Linked DNA regions of Homo sapiens: region 1 is linked to region 2. Evidence: fine-mapped expression QTL. A gene starts in region 2. The other region holds a variant in brackets. All regions are shown on one strand. Distances are from middle to middle.

The links. PIP is the estimated chance that this variant, and not a neighbour inherited with it, causes the effect.
Region 1: its variant is fine-mapped to the expression of MYO18A in whole blood (TOPMed, PIP above 0.99).

The regions. Positions count from the first base shown.
Region 1 is chr17:29,137,511-29,142,873 of GRCh38, reverse strand. The region is part of intron 2 of MYO18A (myosin XVIIIA); the gene reads left to right. LOC124903967 (a long non-coding RNA gene) reads right to left here and starts at 2,400. Exons shown (of 3, transcript XR_007065693.1): 1 at 2,348-2,400. RefSeq lists enhancers at 1,956-2,005, 2,156-2,245, 3,446-3,495, 3,188-4,171, 4,172-5,155 and a silencer at 2,706-2,755. The variant C/T (reference allele first, on the strand shown) is at 3,232.
Region 2 is chr17:29,178,217-29,183,579 of GRCh38, reverse strand. MYO18A (myosin XVIIIA) reads left to right here and starts at 3,182. Exons shown (of 42, transcript NM_078471.4): 1 at 3,182-3,267. RefSeq lists silencers at 3,103-3,323, 3,289-3,338, 3,459-3,508.

The DNA.
Region 1 (5,363 bases), 41 kb after region 2:
ATGGAGCCACTGTACTCCAGCCGATAGAGTGAGTGAGACTCTATTTCAAAAAATAAAATACAAATGAAAAGAAGTTGAAACACAGAGAGATCAAGTTGTGTAGTTTACTTCATGCAAGAGCCAAGATTAAACCAGGCCGTGTGGCCCTGGAGGTCATACTCCTAACCATGGTATGCTGTGAATCATTCCTTTCAAGCCGTGCTTCTCAGACTTTAATGTGCCTCAGCATCACCTGGAAGCCTAGTTAAAACACAGATGCTGCACCCCATATCCAGAGTTCTTGGTTCAGCAGGTCTGGGTTGGGTTCCTGGAATTTGCATTTCCAACAAGTCCCCAGGGGATGCCCACGCTGCTGGCCTGAGAACTTGGAGAACCAAAGCCCTTTCACATACATTATGTACCAGTCTCATACTGGTTGGGTAAGAGTCAGTAAAGGTGTAATCCTCATTTTACAGATAAGGGAAATTTAAGTCACCTGCCTGTGTTCACACAGCTAAATCATTCATTCATTCACTCATTCATTTAACAAATGGACATTTCTGTGCTAGGCCTTATGCTGGCCTTAGAGTCTTGCAGTTCTCAGCCTTGGCTGCATGTGAGAATCACCTGGGGAGCTTTTATCAATAAAAAATCCCAGTGTCCAGCCAGGCGCAGTGGCTCACGCCTGTAATTCCAGCACTCTGGGAGGCCAAGGCGGGCGGATCACGAGGTCAGGAGATTGAGACCACGGTGAAACCCCGTCTCTACTAAAAATACAAAAAATTAGCCGGGCATGGTGGCAGGCGCCTGTAGTCCCAGCTACTCGGGAGGCTGAGGCAGGAGAATGGCGTGAACCCGGGAGGCGGAGCTTGCAGTGAGCCGAGATCACGCCACTGCACTCCAGCCTGGGCGACAGAGCGAGACTCCGTCTCAAAAAAAAACAAAAACAAAAAAATCCCAGTGCCCAGGCCCCTGCTCCCAGACCAATTATGTCAGAAACTGAGAGGGAAAGGGTGGGCTCCAGGCATCAGTATTTTTTTCAAGTTCCCCAGTGGATTTCAGTGAGCAGCTGAGGCTGGCACCATTGTTCTAAGTAGCCACTGAAGATGTGAAGACCTGTGACACTGCACGTGCTTCAGAAGGGCCAGATGCTTCCCCTGGGGGGACATCCCACTCCCTAGAGAGCAGGACACAAGCGCCGTGTCCTAAGAGTCTGTGTATGTGACTATATGACAGTGAGACTTGGACAGCGCATGGCAGGTAGGAGGCAGGGCTGGGTTTCCATCCTCTCTGGCAGTGCTTACCAATCTTTTCATGGAGAAAGTCAGACAATGTATAGAACCAATGGCCCTTAGAGCTGGCCAGGGGCAAGAAGCATGGGGTGTATGCCAGACTGGTTAGGAGGCGGTTCTGTATCAGGGCTTCCTAGCACCACCCCCACCCCATTTTTTTTTTTTCCTAAAGAGGAAGAGGGAGGCAATGACTGTTTCCTTTTTTCTGCAGAGCTGACGGCTTCTGAGACTTGCTCTCCCTGTCTTTTGGCCCCTTGACATTCTGTTCTCCAGCTCCCATTTCAGCGTCTCAGCGGGTCCCTAGTCCTGGTCTAGGCATCCCATGGTGCTAACTGGAGAGCCAGGCCAGGATTTCTCTTCACAAGAAACACTGGCTTTTCACAGGCAGCCATCACTCATTGGCTAGACACCCATGACTTCCTCTGTCTGCAGGGCTGAGGCCCACCCCACCCTCCTCTCTGCCTGTGCAGTCCCTGGCGTCTGTGGAGGGGAGAGGGATGTAAACAAAGAGAGTGTAATTGATTCTCTGCATGTCCCCTGTGTGCTGATGGCAGTGGGGCAGTAAGTGGGCCTGCCCGTGTGGGTCTCTGCTCCTGCCAGACCTTACAGGACTGCTTTGCGGCTGCTGTTTGGGCACAGTGTGCAGTGGGCCCCGTGTGCTGTCTTGGATGTGACGTTAGTGGCTGTCTTGGCCTCTGCCGCAGTAATTAGATGGCTAGGGTAGGCCTATGATTTGGGTGTTCTCAAGAACACTGTGTTGATTGAATGTTCGTGCATGCTGGTGTGTGTGTGTGTGTGTGTATACGTGTACATGCACATGAGTGCGCATGTGCTTGTCTCAAGCTTGGCCTGTGGGGCCGGGGGCTGCAGGTCTCAAATTCCTCTGCTATTTTTAGGAGCCATATCAGCCCAGCTGTCCCGGAGCTGGGGTGTGTGTCCATAGGCAAGTCTCACCCTCCCTGTCCTTGCCCTAACCCCCTAACACTGCCTGCCCCCCACCCCAATGGCTTTACCCTAAGAGCCTTCTCCTTCCCTTCCACACACACTGCTGTATCACCCTCTCCCTCCTGGCATACCTGATACCCGAAGTCCTCCGGGCTGCTGGCTCCAACTAGGGCTGGGCAGCTCGGGACGGGAGGGGCCGGGGAGAGGGCGGGAACTGGGCGGGGCCACAGCCTGTGCTATTTTGAGCTGCTAACGGAGCCAGAGCAGCATCAGAGCGGAGTCTCCTTGCTCTGGGCTGCTCCAGGCCAGGCCATGCGGGTGAGTGTCCCTCTGACCCCCCACCCCGGAAATGTCCCAGGCTCCTCATGCTATTTCCTCATTTAGGAAAGGAGGGACCTTTTTGTGATTTCCCCAGATGTGGCTGAAGTAGGTGGGGAGAGGGGTGGGGCAGCCTTGGGGCTCCTCTCCGAGCTTCTTGGTAAGAAGGGAGTTACTCAGCCCCGGAAGCCTCAAAACCCCTCCGTGGCTAGGAGCAGGGCATCCTGGGCCTGACTCATGACTTCAGGAGTTTTGGAGGGGCACTGTCTTCTGAACCTCAGTTTCCTGGGGTTGCATCCACCCCCAAGGCTGTGACACGCCTTCCCCACCAACCATTAGTGCTTTTTTGGCCTTCATTCCTTAGAACACTGTTTTCTTCCAAAGCCCCAGCCCCACAGCACCCAAGGTCCTCGGTAGTCTTGTCTCTGCTTTGTTGCTGGTATAGCTCTTTCCTCTCTTCCTCCTTGAGAGGGGATGGTCCTTGGAGTTGTCAGGGAGCACCCTTCTCGCTGTCCCCAAGAGTAGTCTTAGCATGGCCACCTCCATTTCTGTGCATAGGACACTTGCAAGGGGCACAGATGGCGTGTTGGGGATGCTCTGACTGGCCCTAAGTCTCTTTTTTAGTAGAGATTACTCCAGATAAGTAAGTTCCTTAAAAAAGAAAGTGAGGAGAGACATAGCTGCTCCCAGTCCTTCC[C/T]GTTCCCCTGACTCTACCCCTCCCAGCCACCAAGGGTAAGGTTTTCAGTTGTGTCAGCAGTTGGCAGAGTACGTGGGCTGGCCTGGTGCGGAGGTGCATCAGGAGCCTGAGATGTACCCGTGAGTACTTGTATCTCTCTGTGCTCAGGACTGCCCTGCCTCAGCCCCCAAACTGGCACCAGGGCTGAGTTGTGTGGGCAGTATGCCCGGGGGTGGGGGAGAGGTCAGAGAGAGCTCCTCACCCTGAGAGATGGGCGCTTCCTGGTCTAGGGTACTCTCCCCCAGCCACCCCCGGGCCACTAGCACCAGGTCACAGATTTAGGGCCATGCACAGTGATATCCAAGCAGACAGCAAAGTGCCCTCCAGAGGGGCAGTGAGCATCCCCAGGGAAGGGGGGCCTCCAGCAGGTTCAGTCGTTGGAGGAGGAAACCAAGACCCTTCTGCAACTGCAGTTGCGGCAGGAAGCCATTCCAGTGCACCTGCTTCCTCTGGGCTGGCCTGCAGTGAGGCGGGTGCCCGGCTGCTTTCTGTTCCGCCCTGGGGCTGGGGAGGGCTCTGGCTGGAGGCTGGACTGCAAGGGCCAGGTTGTCCCTGCCAAGCTCATCTCCCCCTCCCCCGCTGTCTGGCAGCATGGCCTTCAGTTCATTCCTTAGAGAGCTTCCCTTCCTCTCAAGCAGTTCCACGTAAAGCATATTCAGGTTGGTGGGTGGAGGGGCGGGTCATCATTGGGAACCCCTGCTTTCCTCCCAAGCTGCTCTTCTGGCAGCTGATGTAGAAGGACAACAGTGCAGGTGAACCAGGGGAAATGGAGGGCAGGGCGTGCCTCCATCCCTTAAAGTGAGCAGTGGAGGGCTCTCGCAGGAGACCTGAGTGTGAGTCCCAGATCTGCCACTTGCTGCTGTGAGGCTTTGGGCGAGTCACCTGACCTTCTGAGCCTCCTTTTGCTCATTTGTAAAGTAGCAGTCACACAGTCACACTAGTATCTATTTCAGAGGGATGTTGTGAGGATCAAATGAGATGATTCATGTGAGGGATTCAGCACAGCACCTGACACATACCAAATGCTCAATAATGATTAACCGTTTTTTACTATTATGCTAGTATTTCTTCCCTTCTCCTTTGTTCCTGCCACCCTTCCTCGCCCTCAATCCCTAGATAAGTTGGTGCTAGGTTGGGACTGGGAGGAAGAAGTCTCCTGGGAGCTGCCCTCTGTGCCTCTGAATGGGAAAGAGGGAGGAGAGGAGAATGCCCTGCCTCTTGGTCCTCAGAAGGAGAAGCCTCCGGTGTGTGAGTGCTGTCAGAAGCGGCGAGGCGGGAAAGTGACCTCGGCCACCAGCTACGTCTCAGCTTCCTTTGGGCACTCTCTTGAGAGTTACCTGCTGCTCTCGGGGGCTTGCAGTGTGCAGATGTCTGGTGTGGATGCTTGGGCCTCAAAGCATTTGTCCAGGCCAGGCATTCCAGGCCTGAGGGGCTGCCTGAGGCGTGGCATTATTCTCCCAGGAGCATTTGTGCCCCCATTCCCTCCTGTGAGGGGCCCAGAGAGTGCAGGTTAAGGGCGGGTAGGCTCTGCTGGCATGGTGGAGGGTAAACCCCAGCTGCTCCCAGAGTGTCAGAAGCCTCCTGGGGCTGAGGCTTGACAGTCCCTCAGTACATTTCTTGGATTTCTCCTCTTTGAGAACAAATGCTTCTAGCTATTATCTCCTTTGCTTTTTTTTTGACTATTTAGCCATCTTCACAATAAAAATAAGCAGTAAGTAACAAATACATACCAAAATAAATACCAGGTGTTCATGTTGTGTCTAATTCACACAGTTTACAAGATTATTATGATCACTGTTTGTATACTATTTGGGTTCCAGTTTTTTTGATTGATGTCATTTTATATGGAGCTTTCCATATGGTTACATTGTCCACACATTTGTCAGTTTAAATGGCAATACAACAACGGGTTGTACCTAACCATTTCTTAATTCTAGGCATTTGGGCTCTTTCCAATTTGGAGCTGTTATATAGAGTGCATCTATAAAAATCTTTGCGTTTTTTTTCTTTTTCTTTCTTTAAGTCAGCTCACTGGACATACATTCCTGAAGATGGAATGGGTAGGCCAGAGGATGATGCATTTTGTGGCTATT
Region 2 (5,363 bases):
TCTCTTTTATTTTTTATTTATTATTATTTTTTGAGACGGAGTCTTGCTCTGTCACCCAGGCTGGAGTGCAGTGGTGCAATCTCGGCTCACTGCACCCTCTGCCTCCTGGGTTCAAGTGAATCTCCTGCCTCAGCCTCCTGAGTAGCTGGGACTACAGGTGCATGCCACCACACCAGGCTAATTTTTGTTCTTTTAGTAGAGACAGGGTTTCACCATGTAGGCCAGGATGGTCTGGATCTCTTGACCTCCTGATCCACCTGCCTCGGCCTCCCAAAGTGCTGGGATTACAGGCGTGAGCCACTGCACCTGGCTTTAATTTGCTATTCTCTAGTGACATACAATGTTGAGTATCTTTTCTTTTGCTTACTACTATCTGTATATCTTCTTTGGTAAGGTGTCTGATCAGGTTTTTTACCCATTTCTAAATTGGGTGGTTTTCTTATTGTTGAGTTTTTAAAACTCTTTGCATATTTTGGATAACAGTCCTTTATCAGATGTCTTTTGCATATTTTTAGTAGAGACGGGGTTTCACCATGTTAGCCAGGATGGTCTCGAGCTCCTGATCTCATGACACACCTGCCTCAGCCTCCCAAAGTGCTGGGATTACAGGCGTGAGCCACCGCACCTGGCTTTAATTTGCTATTCTCTAATGATATACAGTGTTGAATATCTTTTCTTTTGCTTACTGCTATCTGTATATCTTCTTTGGTAAGGTGTCTGATCAGGTTTTTTGCCCATTTCTAAATTGGGTGGTTCATTTTCTTATTGTTGAGTTTTTAAAACTCTGCGTATTTTGGATAACAATCCTTTATCAGATGTCTTTTGCATATATTTTATCCCAGTTGTGGCTTGTCTTCTCATTCTCTTGACAGTCTTTTGCAGAGCAGACATTTTTAATTTTAATGAAGCCCAGCTTATCAGCTCTTTCTTTTATGGTGCCTTTGGTGTTGTATCTAAAGAGTCATTGTGATACTCAAGGTCATCTAGGTTTTCTCCTATGTTATCCTCTAGGAGACAGTTTTATAGTTTTGTGTTTTACATTTAGGTATATAATCTATTCTGAGTTAATTTTTGTGAAGGGTATAAAGTCTGTGTCTAGACCCCCCCCTTTTTTTTTTTTTGCATGTGGATGTCCAGTTTGTTGAAAAGCCCCATGTGTTGAAAAGACTAAGCTTATATAATTTTCAAAACAAATTTTGAGGGAGGGAGTCACTGTTATTATCCCAATTTTTTGGATGAGCAAAGTGAAGCACAGAGAGGTGATTTATAAAAAATCACCCAGAGTAACACAGCTAGTACTTTACAGAACTGAGATTTTGAATCCAGGCAATCCAGCTCCAGAGTCCATGCACTCAACCCCTATCTATAATAATAATGTCTCCCTCATAGGTTCATTGTGAGGAGTAGAGATAGTGTCTAGTATATAATAGGTACTCAGGAAACACTAATGATAGTCGTTGTCCTACTTAGCCTGCAAGGTTCCGCTCAAATGTCATGTTTTTGGGGTTTTTTTTTTTTCTTTTTTGGAGACAGAGTCTTGCTCTGTCGCCCAGGCTGAAGTACAGTGGTGTAATCTCCGCTCACTGCAACCTCTGCTCCCCAGGTTCAAGAGATTCTCCTGCCTCAGCCTCCCAAGTAGCTGGGATTATAGACATGCACTACCACGCCTGGTTAATTTTTTGTATTTGTAGTAGTGATGGGGTTTCGCCATGTTGGCCAGGCTGGTCTTGAACGCTGGCCTCAAGTGATCTGCCCACCTCAGCCTCCCAAAGTGCTGGGATTACAGGCATAAGCCACCATGCCTGGCCTCAAATGTCATGTTTTTGAAGCTGCTCTTCTCACTCCTCAAGCCAAATAAGCCTCCCATCATAGCACCTATCTCATCATCCAAGTAATGCCAGCATGGTGAACCCTACTACTGTCACAGCTCAGGTCTACCTGTTCCCCATGTGATTTCCCTGGAGATATGCCATGTCTGATCTCCTTCTGTGTCACCCCAAGTGCCTGGGGCTGCACTTGGCACTTAGCAGGCAGTTTGTTAAATTGAATTTGAGTTGCATGTTATTCCAAAATGTGTATCCCGCCTGGGTCTATTCCTCAGGAACTCCCTAACTCTTACTCAACTCTCTGCTTTCTGAGCCTCCTTGCTCCAGCCTTCCCTGGTCTGTCAGGTTGGGCTGCCCTTGCCTGGAGAAGTTCCTGTTTGGGCTGTCTAGGGAGGTAGCAGCATTTGTCTGCTACACCCTTCTTCCTGCACCACCCCACTCAGTTTCTTCCACATTCTGGCACACCCCACTCCAGCATGGACACTGCCCAGGGAAGTGTCCCCATTTCTTTCTTTCTCCAAACTCTAGACATAGCACCTATCTTGGAGGCCTGGTATCTGGATGTCCCTTGGCCTCTCCCAGGAAGTATAAACTGTCTTCTTGGTGGGTACAGCAGCTCACTTGATATTTACAGCACACAGTGGACCCAGGGACAGACTGCATTCCAAAGAGCTTCTGAAAGTGTTAATCTTGGCATTGGTGAACTCCTTTAGGGAGTGAGTGGCACTTACAGCCATGGCTCCCGGGCCCTGGTACGCCTCTTGATCCACTCCATTTTGAGGCAGGGCTGTATCAGACCAAGCTATTGGGAGTCTGTTTTTACCTTGGGGAGTGCATTCTGGCAGTGCCATCTCGGACATGGCAGGCAGTACCTGGTCTGGACTGAGCCTGGGGCACCATCCAGCAGGGCCCTGTGTGTGCCTCTGCAGAGCCACCTTGGGAGGAGGCGGCCAGTAAGACTTAATTGCTTCCTTTAGACAGCACTACCTTGAACACAGCCTGCAGAGTTCGGTGCCTGCCTTGGACAGCCCCTCTTCTATACGTTCATCATGACCCTGGTGCCTGTCCTAGGCAGTGCCACTCAGCCCCTTTCGGACCCTTTTCGGACAGCCTCCAGTGCCCAGTGCAGACAGAAACTCCAGGCAGGGCCTCTCTCAGACACAGCGAGAGGGGCTTCGGAGTCCACAGCGGACGGAGGCTGCCAGGGCAGCGCCCGGCCCGCCTGGCCCACGTCTGGCGGCGCGCACTGGCGCTGCCAGGCAGGCCGGGCGTTTATCCCCACAGCCGCCAGCAGGGAGCTCCCTTTCGGCTCGGCCTGCGCGGTCGCTGGGGGCGGCGCTGAGCTGCGCCGCGCTGCGCTCTGCTCCATCCCTGACCGGGCCGAGGCTGCTGGATGCCGCGTCTCCGCTTCTGCTGCCTGCCGGGCGGGCTCCGGTGGCCGGTGAGTGCCGGTCGGCGGCGGCGGCCGCTCGGTGGCGGGCCCGGCTTGGTGGGGCGGCGGGGCGGGCTCCGGCCGGGAGGGAGGGCGGGCGGGCGGCGGGGCCCGCCGGCTCCTCCTCCTCCTCCCCCGTCCCCTGGAAGCAGCGGCCCGGACTCCCGGCTCCCGTCCCTGGCGGCGCCGTGGAGCTCGACGCCCGGGGGTGGGGGCCGATCGGGAGCGGCGGGGAAGGGGGAACCACCGGCCCTTCCAGCCAACCTGGGGGGCGCAGGGAGGCAGGACAGGGTGGCCTTCAGTGTGGGGGGATTTGGGGCTTGGAGGCGCCCAGGTGGCCCGGAGCTGCGGGGTGGGGGCTGCAGCCTCGAGGGTGGGGGGACTTCTCCTGCCCCCGTCCAGGCCCCACGATGGAGCGAGCGAGAGAGCGGGGCGCTGAGGAAGGCAGCGGGGAAGGGGAGCACCTCTACCGACCCTTTTATCCCTCCCAGCGGCCTTCACTCTTTCACTGCCGGGCAGACTGCGGGCTCCTCTCAAAGGAGCAGCTGCTAGACAGCTGGCAAAACAATGGAGACCCCGCTTCCCTGGGCCCCCTCCTCTTGGGACAGAAGATGAGAGGGTGAATGGTGGCAGGCTTTGGGGATTAGGGAGTGCAGGCTGTGCCCTGAGACTGAATGCTCACCTCACCTTTCCCTGCAGAGGGGTGGGGTGCGTGTGGGAAGGTCGGACAAGCTGCCCCAGGCCTCTGGAGAGACCGCCCCGACGCCCCGCCCTGCTAACCTGTCATGCCAGTTGTTTCGCCAATGGGAAGGGGAGGTGGTAGGGGTGGCTGCCCCCTCACCCTGCCCCTTGTTAGTGGGGGTGCGCTCCTTGGTCCCAAACCCGGCCAGGAGTGTGGGTCATGTTCCTGGGTGCGATAAGGCCCGCAGGGACAGGCCAGGCATTGGGGCTTTGTTTTGGGGGTGGAGATGGGGGAGTTGCCCTACTGCAAGGCACATGTGTCTTGCTGATTAGTTGGAAAGGTTGCGGCCAGAATGAGCTAGAGGTGGGGGGTGGGGGAGATGGGGAGGAAGACAGCCAGTTTGTTTTTGAGCGGGTATTCATTTTGCCTGACCACTTTGCCAATGGGGCATGTGTTTGGCGCTGGCCTCATAGTTTGTATTTGTGTGGGGAGGGCTGGGGGAATGCTTCCTGAGAGGGACTGTCCTGGCTAGGGCTTTCATTCCCTCAGATGGCCACCCCGAATTAAAGAATTGGATTCCCTCCCTGCTTCACCCTGCCAATGACTTGGGCTAGTTAGTGTGGGTTCGTCTTGTCTTTTGGAGCCCCTGGCGTGTCTGTGGCCGAGAAGGCCTCATCAGTGCCCCTGTGGCAAGTGAGCTCTGGGAAGTGTGTATGCACTGGGGTGTGCTGGAAGGGAGGGGAGGCCACCTGGGTGATTAAGAGCAAGATCACCTGAGCAGGACGGTGAGTACAGAGCCCATTGAATCAGCCGCCTTTCCCTTGTGCTTTGGAGCCCTTTTCTTGAGCAGGTTGGTGCCCTGTTGTTGTGGCAACAGGCCTGGCCTAATGTTCCCCACCCTTTTTAGTTCAGGGGCTACTTTCTATCTGGAGATATTGAAAGTTGCTCTCCTGAGGTCTCTGGCTTCCTGACAAGCCTCACTGGCTCTTTGTCCATGGCTTCCCACCTCCTCAGCTTCCTCTCTGTTTTTTTGTGATGAAGTCTTTCCAGGAAACATCCTCCTGGTTTCTGGATTTGACATGACGGGTTATATATAGCCTCGGGTGGAGGTGTGCTTGTCCATTTTGGGTTGAGGACATGGGGGTTGTGGCCTCAATTCCAGGAAAACCATGGCTTTGGGGGCAGCTATTGTGTTGAGGGATTAGGGGAATGAGAAGGGTTGTAGGTGGGGGTGGAGGGTGGGCATGGGAGGGGCCACAGGCTGGCGGTCACTTCCTTTGGGAGCTTTGAACTTTGAACAGTTGATGACCTGGTGCCTGGTAGCTCTGAGTGTCTAGTTTGTTTACTCTCTCCTGGCCTGGCCCAGGTGCCAGAGTGTGTGCCTGAGGGCTTCCTCCTGCGCCCCAGACTTTCCTCATGTGGG